3 separate regions of the Homo sapiens genome follow, and regions 2 and 3 are each reported to be linked to region 1. The links are microRNA targets in miRTarBase. Many come from high-throughput screens and were not tested one by one. Region 1 holds a microRNA gene; each other region holds the end of a gene's coding sequence.
Evidence for each region. The annotated mature microRNA hsa-miR-654-3p reads UAUGUCUGCUGACCAUCACCUU and lies in region 1 at 1,453-1,474, opposite strand. An mRNA with a match to its seed (bases 2 to 7 or 8) in the 3' UTR can be bound and repressed. Matches are read on the target gene's strand: a 7mer-m8 pairs with bases 2 to 8, a 7mer-A1 pairs with bases 2 to 7 and ends in A, and an 8mer does both.

Region 2: miRTarBase lists TFDP2 as a target of hsa-miR-654-3p. The part of its 3' UTR that is shown has no 7-base or 8-base seed match.
Region 3: miRTarBase lists EXT1 as a target of hsa-miR-654-3p. Seed matches in the 3' UTR shown: 7mer-m8 at 2,710-2,716.

Annotation. Positions count from the first base shown.
Region 1 is chr14:101,038,484-101,041,742 of GRCh38, reverse strand. It overlaps MIR654 (microRNA 654), which reads right to left and starts at 1,524; the gene lies at 1,444-1,524. It overlaps MIR376C (microRNA 376c), which reads right to left and starts at 2,053; the gene lies at 1,988-2,053. MIR376A2 (microRNA 376a-2) reads right to left here and starts at 1,674; the gene lies at 1,595-1,674. It overlaps MIR376B (microRNA 376b), which reads right to left and starts at 1,307; the gene lies at 1,208-1,307. It also overlaps MIR376A1 and MIR300.
Region 2 is chr3:141,949,910-141,953,168 of GRCh38, reverse strand. It overlaps TFDP2 (transcription factor Dp-2), which reads left to right. Exons shown (of 13, transcript NM_001178139.2): 12 at 153-258; 13 at 473-3,259. The coding sequence ends at 656. Among named protein-coding and RNA genes, the nearest start is that of ATP1B3, 75 kb to the right of the region's middle.
Region 3 is chr8:117,796,603-117,799,861 of GRCh38, forward strand. EXT1 (exostosin glycosyltransferase 1) reads right to left here. Exons shown (of 11, transcript NM_000127.3): 11 at 1-3,259. The coding sequence ends at 3,110. Among named protein-coding and RNA genes, the nearest start is that of SNORD168, 120 kb to the right of the region's middle.

The DNA of each region.
Region 1 (3,259 bases):
GCCTCCCAAAGGGCTGGGGTTACAAGCGTGAGCCACCGTGCCCGGCCAAGGTAGGCCCTTTTTGCTAGGCAGAACAGGTGGTCTGAAGAGAAAACCCTATATCATCTCCAAAGCCAGCATCTCTTCCAGAAAGTTCTTGGAAGGAAGCATGAGATGAGGAGGGTCAGAGAACCAGGTCACAAACAGCAAGACAGAGGCACATGCCCTGTGGTCAACCATCCACACCCCAGGGCTATCCTGGCCATCTAACAGGTTGCTGGAGTCAGCCTTGTTCCCAAGAAGGCTTCCCAGGCAGGATTTGCTCCCCAGAGAGAGTCTGCCCTTGTATAATCATTGCAAGTAAAGCAAATGCGTGAAGGATTACCTCTCTTCAAGTAGCAAATGATGGCAGTGACAGGAAGGCCATTTCCTCTGTGACTAAGTTGCCACCAGCTCCAGGAGCAAGCCTTAGAGACACAGATGGGATCTGCATGGTGAGAGCAGCACACCGAGGTGTGAAGTGCAGGCCCGTGGGTGAATCACACATCTATTCCTTCCATAGCCCCTGAAGCAGTGCCCCTTCCTGAAATTGACAGCCCACTCAGGTATTCTCTAAGGTACAACTAGTCACAGTAAAAGAGGTTCATTCCAGAAAATGCATTGCAATCATGGTAAACATACAGAGAACAAACTTCATTCAAGGTCAATGAGGCAATACTGAGAACACAGCCTTGTAACAACACATTATGTGTGCACCAAGGGCAGTGAGCAAACAGCAGAGAAGCTGACGGCGTATTTCATACAAAGTACAATTCTGTGTCTGTCCGTCCTGTACCCAGGAGGGGTACAGATAACATCTCCTCTTCCATGGCGACTTCACGTCCTCCGAGGTTTTCAAAGCAGCATTTGATACTGAAAACGTGGATTTTCCTCTATGATTAATCATAAATAATGTACTCATAGAAGGAGAATCTACCTTTTAAATACCAAAGAAGGATTCCATCCAGGAAAGCGTGCACCTGTGCTTGAGTCATCAGAAAAGAAAGTCACATGAGGCAGACGAGCTTCCAGGGAAGAACTGGCACCACGAGACCCACAATTTAATCTTCACCAAGTTGGCGTCTCGAGATGGTTCTCGGGCATACCCCGTTCATTCAGATACGACGTGCGGCCTACCATCTTTGCACCTACTCAGGCCCTACGGTCTCTTCCAGAAACATTTCCAAAGCAGCATTTGATACTGAAAACATGGATTTTCCTCTATGATTAACCAGGAATCACGTAAACATAGAAGGAATATCCACGTTTTAAATACCAAAGAAGGACTGGGCTCTGGAAAGGACAAATCTGAACACAGTTCATGGAAAATGGAAGCAAGACAGTAAAGCAACCGTTTTCAGTCCCGTAGCATAGCTGTGACAACACACCACAGCCTGTGCACCAAGCTGGCTCCTCAGCGAAAGGGGGCTTCTAAAGGTGATGGTCAGCAGACATATGGCACGAACTCAGCACATGTTCTGCGGCCCACCATCTTTCCACTTACCCTGGAGGGCTCAGCCCCACCTCACGTCCCTGATGGTGGCTTCAGTCCAGCCATGATCCCAAGGCAGCATTTGATACTGAAAACGTGGATTTTCCTCTATGATTAACCATCAAACACGTAACCATAGAAGGAAAATCTACCTTTTAAATACCAAAGAAGGTTTCATCCCGGAAAGCACGAACCTAAGTACAATCCATCAAACACAAAAGTAACATAGCACAGAGGAGAGCATTCGGCCTCATGGAGAAAATGACGACGGAGCCCAGCCGCTTGGCCGAGCGGGCAGCTTGCGAGAGGGGTCTCCTCAAGGCGGGTGGGTGGTCCGCAGACATATGGCACGAATTCAGCACATGTTCTGAGGTCCACCGACTTTCCACTTACCCTGGAGTGGGGGGGGGGACTTTATTGTCTCTTCCCTGATGGTGGTTTCAGTCCAGGAATGTTTCCAAGCAGCATTTGATACTGAAAACGTGGAATTTCCTCTATGTTTAACCATAAATAACATAAACATAGAAGGAATATCCACCTTTTAAATACCAAAGAAGGATTGAGTCCTGGAAAGCATGAACCTAAGCACAATCTATCAAAATTAAAGACAGCACAGGATAGGTGCAGTCGGCAGGGGCCTCCCGGGCTAGCGGCAGTGACATGGGCCCTGCGGAGGACGCATGTCCCAGGACAGACCTTGCTAACAAGAGCTTAGGTTCTGGGATTCACCTTCCATCACTCTCCGCATGGGGGAGGGAGCTAACCTTCCTCTCAGAAATGTTCAGAAATGTTTTAAAAGCAGCCTTAGATACTGAAAATGCGGATTTTCCTCTATGATTCACCATAAATCCTGTAAGCATAGAAGGAACATCCACCTTTTAGATGGGAAAAGTGGGAACAGCCCTGGAGAGCACAAACGCAAACATGATTCATGAAAGACAGAAGGTAACAGAAGCAGGTGAGCACTTTGCGAGTCCCACGTGGGAAGCGCAGGGCCCACCCCTGGCCTCTTCACATCCAGAGATGGAACTCCTATGCAGGCAAACGTAAGTTTGGGGTCTGCCCTGCTGTCACTCGTCTGGGTGGGGGTAACCCTAATGTCTCTTCCCTAATGGAGGCTTCATGGTCAAGAGCGTTTCCAAAGTAGCATTTAATTCTGAAAAAAAAAAAAAAAAAAAGTGAATGTACATCAAAAATTTGCCACAAGTAAAGCAGGCAAAGTAGGGATTCTATGCTTTGAATTCGAAAAATATCAAAAACAAAAAGAAAATAAGCCTGTCAGGTTCCTAAAGTCACATCGCCTCCATGAAGCCCTCCCAAGGCACCTAATGACCAATGTCATGTAACTGTGGGCTGGAGCATCCTTCACATACCTTGGAGGGAGAAGGACACCCAAGAATCTTCCAGAGACTGAAGCTTGTGTCCAGAAAGTTTCAATCGGCAGGACTGGTCATGTTGGTGTGACAGACTGAGGAATAGGCAAACAGGTCAAAAACAATGTCTCTTTAAATACAACTGAGAGAGGTAGCAAAACATGATGCTCACCAGCCCCTACCACCACCACCCTCCACCACCACCACCACCACCACCACCAACACCACCAACACCACCACCACCAACACCACCACCACCACCACCACCAGTACCACCACCACCACCACCACCACCACCAACACCACCACCACCAACACCACCACCACCATCAGTACCACCACCACCACCACCACCACCAATACCACCAATACCACC
Region 2 (3,259 bases), not on the chromosome of region 1:
AGAAACCTGGGTTCTTGTCACAGCAAGAGAATTGTCTAGCTGTCATGAAGAATAAGCTTAGCTCTTGCTTTTCTGTGCTTTCCTCAGACTGTAACAACAGCAGCCACAGAACTTGCAGGACCGACATTTTTTGTTCTCATTTTTTCCTTTAGATATCTCCACAGGACCTTCTTGGTTAAATCAGGGACTACTTCTGAACTCTACCCAATCAGTTTCAAATTTAGACCTGACCACTGGTGCCACCTTACCCCAGTCAAGGTACGTATTTTTTTCAGGGTTAGAAAGGCAAACCCCAGAGCCCTGACTGTCTGTGTAGGGGTGAGCCGGGGTCATGTTACTGCCAGCACAGGTCCTGCTGAGCAGGTTTGTGGCAGATCTCACCAATGGCACCTCCTTCCTGTTTTTATTCCTATGTTTTACAAAACTGTTTATACCACATTAATGAGCCTGTGTGTTTTTAATTGTTTGCTAGTGTAAACCAAGGGTTATGCTTGGATGCAGAAGTGGCCTTAGCAACTGGGCAGTTCCTGGCCCCAAACAGTCACCAGTCCAGCAGTGCGGCCTCTCACTGCTCCGAGTCCCGAGGCGAGACCCCCTGTTCGTTCAATGATGAAGATGAGGAAGATGATGAGGAGGATTCCTCCTCCCCAGAATAAAGACAAGAGAAAGCCTACGTTTCAATATGTGATGCTCATGTGTGTTTGTAGTGTGAGCTCTTGTTTTTGAAATGATTGCTTCAGTCTTTGCCTTTGTTTGCACTGTGTGTTCAGTGAAAACTAGAGAAACACAATAAGCAAATCACATGAAGGCTGAGATGATTGAGATGAAAGTTAACATAGTGTGAATGAAAGTCTGGCCAACAGAGCAGTAGATGATATAACAAAGAAAGCATGCTTTCTGAGGAGATAGTGGGGATAATCCCTGAAGAGTTGGCAGTGTGAGTGCAACTCATTTATCTTCTGTGAGGTGGGATTTTTGTGTTCCTCACACCCATGTAATTATTCTTAGAATTGAGATTGCTACACGGAGCAGTCCTTGACGATCGTGTTTCTGACGTTTCTCTTCCTTGCCTGGACTGCCTTTGACAAGGCAGAAATGAACATGAAAAGTCCCCAGGAGAGGGGAGCTGTGTAGTGAGGGATACTGAGGGCAGTCCTGTGGCTGAGGGGCACAGATTGAACTGCTGAACTAGTTGGAGGTCTAGATGAGGTGCTTTACGCATCAGCTGCCTTAGACAGCTTCTAGAAAGGAGCGAGCGCTACTTCTTAAGTACTTAAGTGACATTTAGATAATTTATAGTAAAACTGAAATTATTATTAGCCAATGCATTGGTGCATAGAATTTACTAGGGCTACTTCTGGAAGCCAAAATAGAATAGCATTTCCATGTGCATTAAATACTTTGCCAGCACTGCCTTTGCCAGCATCCTAAATCTGGAGTTTTACAAAGAAGGAAACTGTATCTTTAGGTTAATCAAAGCTATGCATTTCATATAGCTTTTTCATTTAAAACAAGACAAAGAAACAAATTCCTATGACCAAATTGCTTGCCTACAGTTCCCTGCAGTAATTGTATGATCTCACCCAGTGTGCAATTTGTGAAAATGAACCAAATGTCATTACTTTTGTCTTAAAGAAAAGTCTATTTCAAGAATATGAACAGCAGTGTTTCCTTGTACATGTCACCTTTTTTCACATTTTCATTAATCAGAATGACCTTATTGAGCCTACTCCTGGGGTCAATTGCATTTCAAACTAATCCAATATTTAGTGTTTCACAGAAACACTAGAAAACGTTGAACACTCCTACTGCCTGGATATATGGTAGTGCAGTTATGTTGTTTATGGCTCAAGATGTCATTAGAAATACTGCAGTGGTGTATTCACAGCTGCTCCTTCTCTGAATGAAAGAGTGTAGGGACACCTGCCACCATGGCCAGACCCTGACTGAATTTCACATTAAGGCTTTGGAAAGGAGCAAATAATAATGGGAGAATTAACTCCAAAACTTTGACCTGAATCATGTGGATTTGTCCCAAGATTATGCTAGATGCACCAAGCATGGCCCAAATTGGTTCTTTTTTAAATCCCATGGGGGAAGTGCAGGCTCCTTCCTGTGGTGCCTCTTTATAGCCTCACCACCATGCTAACACTGAGCATGGTGAGGAGGAGGAAGCTTTGGCTAGCTAAACATGTTTAATAAGGCCATAAAAACTGAGAAAGAAAAACATTCAACTTTAGCTGAAGCTCCTTTGATACAAAAGTTTCATTCTGTCAGAAATAAGCCATAGTACAGACTCAGAGATAGAGGCAGTTTCTAGAGAACTCGGTCTTATCGTGGGTTCTGGAGCACACCTCTCAGACCAGTCAGGAACACTGGGGAGGTGACAGCAGGTCCCCAGGGGCCTGCAGGGAATCTTTCAGCTGCACGGATTGGGATTTCCCTCCAAACCAAACTGTCCTTTAAGGGGCAGCCTCCTCTTTTACTAACTCCACCCTTTCTCATCTCTGGGACCCAGCAGGGACCTGGAGAGGCCAACAGCCACTGCTACCTTTGTAGTCTTCAAAATATTGAACTGCAGGTCCCAAGATGCATTTCAGGATTTAAGACAGGTGCACTAATGATAACCATTCCTTCACCAAGTAGCAACATTCTTGCCAGAGTTCTTGGGAAACCTGTTTTTTTCTCTACTCTCCATCTCTGCTGCTCTCATGCTTTAAATTGATAAAATATGGGCTCAAAAAAAGAAAGCCGCCAAAGACTCTTATCCTTATTGGTGCCCCATCATTGGCCACCCCAGCCATAGGTGTGTGCTGTTGGTGGGAAATGGTCTCCTTCCTCAGCGTTGTGTTTGGGTTACTGGTGAGGCCAGCTCACAGAGTGACATCATGGTCACCAGTACATGTCGCTGGAGTAAAATCTTGCCTTTAGAAACTAGGTTGAGCTGTTCAGAAAGGTCAATTCTCTTCTGTATTCCCCCTCAACATTTATCTGGGTCTAAAGCTCAGCACTGAGTCACAATTTCACACAAGATCAAAGTGAGGCAGTGTTAGGAAACCATGGGCTGGGTGCAGTGCCTCTCGCCTGTAATCGTAGCACTTTGGGAGGCCGAGGCGGGCACATTGCTTGAGCTCAGGAGTTCAAGACCAGCCTGGGCAACATGACAAAACCCTGTCTCTACAAAAATACAAAAATTAGCTGGGTGTGGTGGGGCATGCCTGTAGTCCTGGCTACTCAAGAGGCTGAGGTGGGAGGATTG
Region 3 (3,259 bases), not on the chromosome of region 1:
TCACAAGAAGAAATTAAACTGTAATGCACATAAGATTCCAGTAACAAGCTTTCCCTTTTTTTTTGAAGCATCTATCTGAAAGTGTGTTGATACGACCAGGTAGGCCCACCTAGCTATGCTATCTTTTGTGGTATGACTATCGTGATTATTTCATGGATTTTTCTCTACAGTCTCAATTTTGAGCCATTTTGCTAGCTTCAACAAAGGTGATATGTATTAATGTATTTGTAAGCTTTGATATTTATAACACTTTCATATAAATAAATACACAGCCAGCTTTTAAAAAATTACTTTTAAGATCCTGTGTCTTAATGTGGAGCTGGGAAAAGATGCTGTGTGGAAATCCATAAGTGGCTGAGTCCTCTTTGGAATTTCTGCAAGCAATTCATTACGTGGTTGGCACTGTACTCTCAGCCCTTGGCTTCTCTCCAATGCAGCACATGTTAGCCCACTTAGGGACCCCTAGTTATCATTAAAGTTGACCAGGAGATAATTCCTGACACCCTACAGAGATGGCTATGATTTGTCAACTTGTTGCAATGCAATACAACTCTTTCCTAACTGAATTAAAATTACATATTACTGTCGAGCTTCACTGATTTGTTAAGCATTGTTCTATTCCCAGCCTTATATTCCAAATGGGAGAAGAACACGCTAGCTCACATCCCAAAGAGATTTGCTCAGAGAATGACATAAAATGAAACTGTGGAGATTTAAAGTGGATGAAAGGTGTGTTATATCCTGTTCTTATTTATAATTACCATTTTTCTTCACATAACACATGTTGTTTGTGGAGGATATGTGTTGTGAGCTTGGTGACAGGTCAATCTGGCAAAGCAGGTCCTTGAATCCACTTGTGTGACTGACTGGTACAATTAGGGACATTGCTTTGCAAGCCAATATGACCACCTAAGTTTCAAGTTGGTTTTGGGGTCATTGAACAAAATATCGCATTTATTTTTTGGTAAAGGAGAAACAAGAATAATTTGCCAATCCTGAAAAAAATAATTTAAATACAAATTCACAAAGGCCAAATGAATAAAGATTAACTGCTAATCTTTTAACTTGCTGAGAAGTGCAGCTTAAATGACATGAAACCTGTAAGACCAAACATTTTATAGAAAAGACACAAGTGCAAGCACCATGGACCTAAGAATTATTTTTCAACAAATGCCTAAGAGATAATCACATCTACTTAGGGGAAAATGTCACATGTTTGAGAATGGACTATGGATGGGTCCAATTAGATGAGAGAGGTATTTAGGGAGCTGTTCTGAGTCATGAGGCTGAGGAGAAAATCCTCTCTTTAATTGAATTTCACTGTCTACGCACCTCTCAAAACACCATCTGGATATGTGGGCTCTACTCCTTGTTCTGCAGCTAGGTAGCCTGTTGAGTCACTTCTCTGGACTTCCACAAACACTTTCACTCCTGTTTACAGCACCATCCCCGTGCTATCATTACAAGCTCCTCTTCCTCTCCCAGATGTCTACAAAGAAAGGATGAGGTAAAGTCCAATGGACTTACGGTTTCCACTGACCTAAGATGGCCACTTGAAATTATCAGAACAAAATTCTCTGATGAACTTTTCTTCTAAAACAAAACTGAAAATAAATGGAAAAGAAATATGAAATGTATGAGAGTTTGAGGGAGGGACTCTAAAGTGCTTATTGTTTATTCAGCATAATACATGGTCAAACTCAATAATGTCTTTCTCTTCCCTGTTTTCTCTGGCCTCTTCCAAGTAGAAGAAAGCATTTAATATCAGAAGTCTCCATTTTTCATAACAGAGTTAGGGATATGTTTTTTTTTTCAGTTTATACTTGGAGTTTAACAATAATCATAAGCCCAAGATAGCATTTTCAGGGATAGAAATGTTCTTTTTAACAAGAAGCACAACTAAACTTTTCCACAGATTTAAAAATTAAAAGTAAATGAAACTATATTCACATTTGTTGTTGATTATTTTGTTTGCCAGATTCTTGCTCAAAACAATGTTTGACCAAAAATGGCATTAGGGTCCCAATGGCGAGACATCTCCTCAGTTACTTTGCAGCAATCCTCTTGTTCATTGGTGTGAATTTCTACCTTATTACCCCTTTTTCTTTCTCAAAAGAGAAACTCTGAAACTTGAGATTCTCACAAACATTAAAGAGTTCATCTTGTAAATAATCTGTTCTCCCCAATATACTCATTATTCCTTGGCTTCTAAACCAAAGCCTCTTCCCAGTGCTACGCAGACTTAGGTCAATGGTTGAATCTATAACCGTGCCCCCAACCCCTGCAAGTATTGGGTTACTGTTGTGGGTCTGTATTTCCATCTCACTAACATGCTGGTGGGTTATCTGGATAGTTCTTTGTGCAAACTGAACATTTCTTAATTATACTAGTGTTTTCTTGGTACTAATTCCCCCCACCCCCCCAATGAAAAACGATTATCATATATATCTATCTCAAACATAGAGATTTCAGTTAGAACTGCCTACCTGGAAGTCGTAATACTTTCTTTCATGCAGCGACATTTTAGAGATAAAAGTTCAAGTGGATTTGAAGATTCGAAGTGGAAAACAATTTGCACTGGCAAAGTTGAATAATGAAGTTACAACTTATGCTCAGTTATTTCTTGATAATGGGTAGAGTGACTTATTGTGTTTTCCACGAAGTTTGAGCTTTTGAAACTGCAGGGCACCCTACATGGCCATGACAATGATGTCTGTGGGAAAAGGAATAGCAGCTTTGAAATATTCACAACCAACACAATTTTGATTAAACAAAGAACTCTGGTTTTTAATAGTTTTGATCATTAAAAAAGTTTAAACCTGCATAGCAATCATTTCAAAAATAATTATTTAATGTTCCATAATTAAACTGTACACAACCTAGTCTTGGGACACAGAAGCCAGTGAGGTGAGTTTGGAGCAGTCTGGTGCAGTCCCAGGAGCCAGGAGTTGAGTTCTCATTGGCCTTTTTTTTTTTGTCATTCTGCTCATCTAAGTTTTTGGATAGTTGGCACAATCTGGCTCTGCTGATGAGTGGATCTGCACTGGGAAGAGAGAGCAGCTTGACCCCCATCCCTTCTTGCTTCCCCTCCCCCACTCAGCCGGATTCCTCAAAGTCGCTCAATGTCTCGGTATTTCTTCCTCAAAATAGAGACCTGGTCTTTAAAGAGGACGGGGTCGAGCCTCATCTGAGAGTGGATCAGCGGCATGTAGCCAAACCAGCTGGCAAACGTATTCATGCAGCTCTGTCGCTGGGCAAA